Linked DNA regions of Homo sapiens: all the other regions are linked to region 1. Evidence: fine-mapped expression QTL. A gene starts in region 1. Each other region holds a variant in brackets. All regions are shown on one strand. Distances are between the middles of the regions.

Region 1 (2,848 bases):
GTCATCTGTATAATTAAATGCTTTTAATTCTATATATCAAATGATAACTTTTGTGAAAGTAATTTAAACACACTTGAAACATCATATAAAATATTACTACAAGACTTAACCGTAAATGTGGCTCCCACCCCCATAACATCTATACAATATAACCAAAGAGCTAGATTCCAGATTATCAAGAAACTTCTAAATTTTGAACCCATGCAGCAGAATTGTATTCCTTTACATTGTTGGCTCGACTTACAAATGTGCTGTGGAATAATTATCCTCAAATACAATTTTCAGTACTGATTACATAGCTGCCTAAAAGAAAACTGTTAGCCCCTTCCATTTTATGTGAAACCAATGTCTAAAGCGCTCTTGACTCTTCAACCCCACATTTTCCCCACCCTCATCCCTCCTCAATCCCCAGCCCCCACTCATCACATCCACTAGACCTGAACTTTGAACTCAATCATAATTCTTTGTGCCTCTGCTCAAGCCCTTCTTCCTGCCTGGAATACCCTCTTTTCAGTCCCGGCTAATTACATCTACCATCCCATTCCAAGTGGCCGCTGGAAACTCACTTCCTTATGTTCTATGATTTCTTTCACAATTTACACTTTTTTTGTTTTGTTTTGTTTTGTTTGGGGGGGGGGGTTGTTTTTCTGAGAGGGAGTCTTGCTCTGTTGCCCAGGCTGGAGTGCAGTGGCGCGATCTCAGCTCACCACAACCTCCACCTCATGGGTTCAACCGATTCTCCTGCCTCAGCATCCCGAGTAGCTGGGACTACAGGCGCGCGCCGCCACGCCTGGCTAATTTTTTGTGTTTTTGGTAGAGACGGGGTTTCACTATGTTGGCCGGGCTGGTCTCGAACTCCTGACCTCGTGATCCGCCCGCCAAACATTCTATGTGCCAGAAACTTGTATGTAACTTTGCATAGTTCTTGTATTATGTCTCCCCAATTTTGAGTGTTTTCTCTGGTCTCTACTCAGCCCTTGCTCACAGTCTCACTAGGACCCTGGCTAGCTTGAACACGGTCAGAAGGATCACCTTAGATTTCTGCTGGCACAGTATTTTCCATAAATTAATCTCCTGATTGAACCGTAGTCCTATAGTAGTTATCTTTGGATGAAAACCTAATGCAGCTCGAGGAGGAAGTGGAGTGCCTGTGATCAGAGGGCTGGACAAAAGCCCATAGGGCGTCTCTGGAGCCCTGGGGGAACTGTCCCCAGGCAGGCACTCTCAGGGCCCAGGAACAGGGCGGGACAAGTCCGACTCACCTGTGAGGTAAGGACGGGGCCAAGACCCGGAACCGAAAAGCAGGTCACGATAGCGCTGGAAGGCCTCGTCGAGGACTGAGCAGCCGGGCTGCGCGGCCGAGCTGACATCGTACTGGAATTGAAAGTTGTTCGGGTAAAGGACGTAGCGCTGGTCGGAGGTTTGGAAGTTCTGAGGCCAGGGCCAGAGGGCCGTCGCCCGTCCTGCGAACGCTGCCGCCAGCAGCAGCGAAAACCAAAGCCTGGAGCTTGTCATGGCCCGCTGGTCTCCCCTCTCGGAGGGGGCTGGCCACGTGAGACCCTGGTCAGGTGAGCGGCGCCCCCGTGACTTATCGGCGAATCACGTGACCAGAGGCGGCTCTGCGCCTGCGACCCCAGGAGGACCCACACCCTGCCCTTTCACTTCCGGCCTGGACCTGAGGCTCCTGCTACGTGCAGCGGATTGTGCCGGGCGTCGGCAACTGCTCGGCTCGCCAGACTGTTCACGGGCCCAGTAGAGCAGTAAATAACCGGCCACCCCTGCGGCCGTGCCGGCCGTGATGGAACTAGACAGCTCACCCGACTCGAGAAGAACGGGGTGGGGAGGCGAGGACGCAGGGCGACCTGGAGAAGAAAGTTTCCCAGATGGCTCTAGGGTGAATCTTGAATGTTGTGATGCAGCTCGCCAGGCCTACGGGGAGGTAAAGGACTTGCCAGGCTGAAGTAACTTCAGAAGCAGAAAAACGGAGGATTAAAACCACAAGTCGTTGTGATGTGAAATTTCGTGGGGCAAGAAAGGGCCGGAAGTAGGTAGTCTGCACGGCTCTGCTAGAGAGAGGATCACAAGATCACACAAATGTGATCTACTTATGACTGGAAAAAATGTGTACTTTCAGAGCCAGCTTGAGGCATTCCATTGCCTCCAATATGAGCTCTTCCCTTCAAGATTGACTATAAATCTCTTAGTTACAACTCACATCCCCTTTCCCCAGACAAAACCCCACATAGCCCGGTGTGTATTTACTGAAAGCAGTAAGATATTGCTGGGGCTTTGGGTGCAAGATGGAGAGTGCTCAGAGATAATGACAGGGGCCTGGTCCTGCAGGGCCTTACGTAGAAAGTCAAGGAATTTATTCTCTGAGCAATTGAAAATCATCCCGAAAGATCTGCATTTTAGAAATACCATGTTGAGTAGTTGCATAAGAAACCAGTTAGGAGGCCCCTTTTTATTGGAGGTAGAGAATAATGAGAGACTGAACTACAGAAGTGGGGAAGGAAGACAGCTGTAGATCCAAGAAATAGTATCCGGAAGAGAGGCTTGAGAAGTGATCAAGGAGAATTCCACAGTTATCAGAGACCCTGTCTTCCTTGTTCACCACTATATTACCAGAACATAATACAAATAATGCTATTGTTATTGGGTGGCATTATTTGGTTAGTAGGTACTTTTTAAAATTTTTAAATTTAATTTTAGTATTAAAATACATGTAAAGATCAGGAAAATGAACTTTTAAAAATAAAGGGCTTTCACTGGGCATGATAACACATCCCTGTAGTCCCAGCTACTCCCAGCTATTCAGGAGGCTGAGGCGGCAGGATCACTTGAACCA
Region 2 (2,848 bases), 36 kb before region 1:
GGACATGAGCTTTAAGTACGTAATGGACATTCAGATGATATGAAGATGTTGGCTACCTGAGCTTGGACCCCAGAGGAAATACACATACATATATTATATATATGTTTGTCGGTCAGTCTATCATCTATCTATCTATCTATCTATCTATCTATCTATCTATCTATCTGTCTAATCTATCTGTCTATCTACCTACCTACCTACCTATCTATCTATGGCTGTCCAGGTGTAAGACTGCACACTAAGACTGTCTAAATGAGATCACTAGGAAGAAAGTATAAGAGGAAAGGTAAGGTGCTGTGGCTCATGCTTGTAATCCCAGCACTTTGGGAGGCTGAGGTGTGTGGATCACCTGAGTTCAGGAGCTCAAGACCAGCCTGGCCAACATGGCGAAATCCTGTCTCTACAAAAATGCGAAAAAATTAGCCGAGTGTGGTGGTGCACACCTGTAGTTCCAGCTACCCAGGAGGCTGAGGCAGGAGAATCGCCTGAGACTGGGAGACGGAGGTTGAAGTGAGCTGAGATTGCACCACTGCACTAGGGCCTGGGCAATAGAGCAAGAGAGCGAGACTCTGTCTCAAAGAAGAAAAAAAAAAAGAAGACAAAACCTTGGTTATGGGCTGAGAGTTTACTGAAGGAGTCAGTGATAGACATTGAGAAACTCAGGAAAGAATGGTGTCACAAAAGCCTGCGAAGAAAGAATTTCAAAGAGGGAGGGATCAAAATCTCAAAAATATGCGAAAAGATCAAGTAATTTTTTTCCTTATTATTGAGCAATGTCCCTTGATTTGGCAACATGTAGGTTATTGTTGGCCTTAGTGGAAGCGGCCCTTATGAGGATTACAGCCCAACTGTGGGGTCATGAGGGCTGAATGCAAAGTGGTGAAATAGACAAACTTGCAACTGTTTCAGGCAGCTTGACTAATAAAAGTGGACTGAGAGGTTTTAATTTTATTTGTTTAAACATAGGAGAAGAAATGGATTCGAGCCCAGAAATAGCTGAGTTGCTAGCTTTATCTGTATGTCTGTATTTGGTGTCCGAGAGGAGGAAGATGTCTGACGTGGGGCAGCCCAGGACAGTGGCTGAAGGCAGTAGGGGCTAGAGTTAGGTAGCTGAGTTAGGAGTCATATGCCCTGCAACTCCCCAGTGCTAATCGGGACTCAGCGTAGCTGTGTAACCATATAGATGTCACTTAACCTTCCTATGTTTGTTTCCTTATCTGTCAAATGAGGATAATATTGATAGCACATTGGTTGGGATGAGGATTAAATACATTAACATCCAGTAAAGTGCTTATAATAGTGCCTGACAGGTCGGGCTTGGTGGCTCAGCCTGTAATCCCAGCACTTTGGGAGGCCAAGGTGGGCAGATCACCTGAGGTCAGGAGTTTGAGACCAGCCTGGCCAACA[T/C]GGTAAAACCCCGTCTCTACTAAAAATACAAAAATTAGCAGGGTGTGGTGGCACATGCCTGTAGTCCCAGCTACTTGGGAGGCTGAGGCAGGAGAATTGCTTGAACTCGGGAGGTGGAGGTTGCAGTGAGCCCAGATTGCACCACTGTATTCCAGCCTGGGTGACAAGAGCAAAACTCCATCTCAAAAAGAAAAGAAAAAAAAAAAAAAAACAACAAAAGTGCCTGACACAGCAAGCACATAAAAATGACGAAGCACTTTTGTTCTCCTAGCTGGATCTCCACATCTATCTTCATTCAGATTTCTGACTCATGTGAGTCTAGATAAACACCAGCAGTTGAGTTCCTATGTTCAAATATCCTCTTTCATAATAGATCATCCAGACACTCAGACACACGCTCTCACTCACACACTCTGCAGCACACCAGCGAGCATGGCACCCCTTCCCATCTGTGTCTGCCTGCCAGCTGCTCTTCCTCCTTTCCCACACACACTCCCTTTTTTGAGTGGCTTCCAAAACATCTCTTTCTAATTTGCTATAAAGAGTGAGCCATAAAGAATTTATTAAGTGATGAAAAAAATCACAGCTAAGTATCAGATTCTCCAGAGGAAATAAGATTAAAAAGAAATTCTGGAAAACAGTTGTTTTTGGAGAAGGGAATAGCATTGGGAAGGGGGATATTAATAATGTTTCATCTTTTTTGTTTAAAAAAAACAAATCTGAAGCAAATATGACTACTGAGATGCAACAAAGCTGGGTGGTTACACTGTTTACTATTTTCTAGACTTTTCTGTTGTTTGAAACATTTGAAATCACTAAAAAATAGGAGTATTTACTGGGATAGTTTAGACTAAACATGGGTGTGGTTAGAGTACAGTAATTACTGTGAAAAAAGCAAGGTTCCTGGACATTTAAATTTTTTTCTTTTTTTTGAAACATGGTCTCACCCTGTTGCTGAGGCTGGAGTTCAGTGGTGTGATCATGACTCATTGCAGCCTCAATCTTCCAGGCTGAAGTGATCCTTCTTTCTCAGCCTCCTGAGTAGCTGGGACTACAACCACACACCACCATTCTTAGCTAATCTTTTTAATTTTTAGTAGAAATCAGGTCTCACCATGTTGCCCAGGGTGGTCTTTAACTCCTGAGCTCAGGCAATCCTCCCACATCGGCCTCCCAAAGTGCTGGAATTAGAGGCATGAGCCACTGCACCTGACCCTGACATTTCGATTTTTAAAAATTTTGTTGAAAAACGTCACACACACACACACACACACACACACACACACCTGCTTCAAAGAGGATTTTTAAAAACAATGGTGGCTCGGCTAGAAAAGATACTAATTTTCAACCTTTATTTCAAAGTTTATTTATAAAGGAAATACAAATTTTGATAAACAAAGCACCCAATTCCTACTTATTTTTTTTCTTCGTGGAAAAAAAA
Region 3 (2,551 bases), 24 kb before region 1:
GTGTCAGGGACTATCTTCAAAAAACTTGATCATAATTTCCCAGAAGTTATCACATCTGTTTTATCTGAGTATCATAATGCCAGTGAGATAATCATGGTAGGTATTAATACTATGTCCATTTAACAGAATATAAATACATAAAAAGGGAATAAGGCCAGAAGAGATTCTCTCCTGAAGGTCACAAGGCAAATTATCGGCAAAGTTTTGGACTTGAACTCAAGTCTCCTGACTCCAAATCCAGTGTCCTTCCCCTATATTGGTCTAAAACTGGCTGGTTAGGATGAGAGACCCTGTTCTTGCCAGCAGGGCCACAGCCAGATTCAGACATTGACCCATAAACTTGGTCTGAGTGAAACGGGAACATACCTTTCTCATGAGCTCTGGAAAAGTGAAGCTCTCATATGGGAAGGAAGGATCATCTACCAGATGCCAGTGGAACACGTTCAATTTATTGTACGCCATGACATCCTGTAGGTTAAAGTGCACACTGTGAACCCATCACAGTCTCTCCGGTTTCAGCCTCAAACTTGCGATGTTGGGCGAGCTCTCAGGCCGCTCCACACACCCCTACAGGCTTGACCTGCCTCAGCTCTCAATTAAGTATTTATGGGGTCTATCAAACCTTCCCATCAGGGAGGGATGGCATGGAGGGAAGGCCCAGCACACTTCTACTTTTCCCAGAACACATCCAAAGATGGATGATAGAAGTGGTCTTTCCTCTTCTTGAAATAAATTCTGGCCACATTAAGAGGAGGGCTGCAGCTACTGTGGTAGCCTGGAATCTTCCAAAAGCCTGAAGATCAATACTTCCTCTTGCCATTTGTGTTCGGTTGTCTGACTGATGTTAAGCCCAACTGTGAGACCTCCTGGGAACTTAGTAGCCTCTTAACTCATAATCTCAGAAGCAAAGGCTGGCAGATGTGTGGCCTCCTTTGGTTCCGTCACAGGAGCAAAGGAAAAGGCAGACACAGGAACTGGATTGGGAACTGTCAGATAAGACTGCACATTAAACTCAAGAGAGTTAGGAACTTCCCCAGGAAAGGCTTTTTTTTTTTTTTTTTTTTTTTTTGAGACAGAGTCTTGCTGTGTCACCCAGGCTGGAGTGCAGTGGCACAATCTCAGCTCACTGCAACCTCCACCTCCCAGGTTCAAGTGCTTCTCATGCCTCAGCCTCCTTCCTTCCTTCACTTATTTATTTATTTATTTATTTTTGAGACAGGGTCTCTGTTGTCCAGGCTGGAGTGCAGTGGTGCAATCACAGTTCATGCATCCTTGATCTCCCCAGGCTCAGGTGATTCTCCCATCACAGACTCCTGAGTAGCTGGGACTACAGGTTTGCGCCATCGCGCCTGGCTAATTTTTTGTATTTTCAGTAGAGATGGGGTTTCACCGTCTTGGCCAGGTTAGTCTCAAACTCCTGAGCTCGGGCAATCCACCCGCCTTGGCCTCCCAGAGTGCTAGGATTACAGGTGTGAGCCACTGCACCTGGCCCCAAGTTAAGGCTTTGAACGTCTCTCTCCTATGACCTTGTTCTAACTAAAGTTAGCTCTGCC[G/A]GCCAGGTGTAGTGACTCATGCCTGTAATTCTACCACTCTGGCAGGCCAAGGTGGGCAGATTGCTTGAGCCCAGGAGTTCAAGACCAGCCTGGGTAACATGACGAAACCCCAGCTCTACAAAAAATACAAAAAAAAAAAAAAAAAATTGAGACGCTGTCTCAAAAACAAATATAGTTAGCTCTGCCAATGAAGCCAATTCCCCTAAACATTTGTATCCCTGGAAACAGCCTGAACATTGATCTACAGTAGCCTGTAAGGTAGATTTAAGTCACTCTGTTATTTTTTGAGTCTTGGAGCAGCTCATCTTCTACATTTTTCCCAGGAGCTCATAGAATTACATACAATTTTTTTTTTTTTTTTTGAGACAGCGTCTCACTCTTTCACCCAGGCTGGAGTGCAGTGGCGTGATCTCCACCCACTGCAACCTCTGCCTCCTGGGTTCATGCGATTCTCCTGCCTCAGCCTCCCAGGTAGCTGGGATTACAAGCATGCACCACCATGCCCAGCTAATTTTTGTATTTTTAGTAGAGACAGAGTTTCACCATGTTGGCCAGGCTGGCCTTGAACTTCTGACTTCAGGTGATCCGCCCACCTCGGCCTCCCAAAGTGTTGGGATTACAGGCATGAGCCACCACACCCAGTCCATACATTCCCTCTCTAACTCTTTAAGAATTTGGAACTTGGTCTGTCCGTTGCTCCATCACCCTAGAACTCTTAAGTGTGAAGAAGGCCTTAAGGCCTGGTTACCAGAGTGTCCAGGATGCTAGAGAGTGGCAGGTAATGGCGAGATGTATCCAACAGCAAGCCCCGGTGAGGAAAGCGGGGAAAGTCCTCAATCTCAGTCTTGTTGATAAAGAACTGTGCAGAACAAACATTGAACATGTCAGTTTCAAAGGAAGCTTACTATGGGGGCACAGGGAGATGAAGACAACTCTCCCAGGATTCTTAAAAAGCCAATCTGTGACTGTTCTCAGGGTCGCTCTCTCCCTAAATGCTC

The links.
Region 2: its variant is fine-mapped to the expression of HEXA in whole blood (TOPMed, PIP 0.92).
Region 3: its variant is fine-mapped to the expression of HEXA in lung (TOPMed, PIP 0.94).

Annotation. Positions count from the first base shown.
Region 1 is chr15:72,374,458-72,377,305 of GRCh38, forward strand. HEXA (hexosaminidase subunit alpha) reads right to left here and starts at 1,557. Exons shown (of 14, transcript NM_000520.6): 1 at 1,263-1,557. The coding sequence starts at 1,515. It overlaps HEXA-AS1 (HEXA antisense RNA 1), which reads left to right and starts at 1,656. Exons shown (of 1, transcript NR_027262.1): 1 at 1,656-2,848. RefSeq lists enhancers at 793-1,348, 1,349-1,905, 1,797-1,936, 2,267-2,316.
Region 2 is chr15:72,338,182-72,341,029 of GRCh38, forward strand. HEXA (hexosaminidase subunit alpha) reads right to left here. Exons shown (of 14, transcript NM_000520.6): 14 at 2,743-2,848. Among named protein-coding and RNA genes, the nearest start is that of CELF6, 19 kb to the left of the region's middle. The variant T/C (reference allele first, on the strand shown) is at 1,408.
Region 3 is chr15:72,350,767-72,353,317 of GRCh38, forward strand. HEXA (hexosaminidase subunit alpha) reads right to left here. Exons shown (of 14, transcript NM_000520.6): 5 at 2,302-2,412; 6 at 367-468. Among named protein-coding and RNA genes, the nearest start is that of HEXA, 24 kb to the right of the region's middle. The variant G/A (reference allele first, on the strand shown) is at 1,554.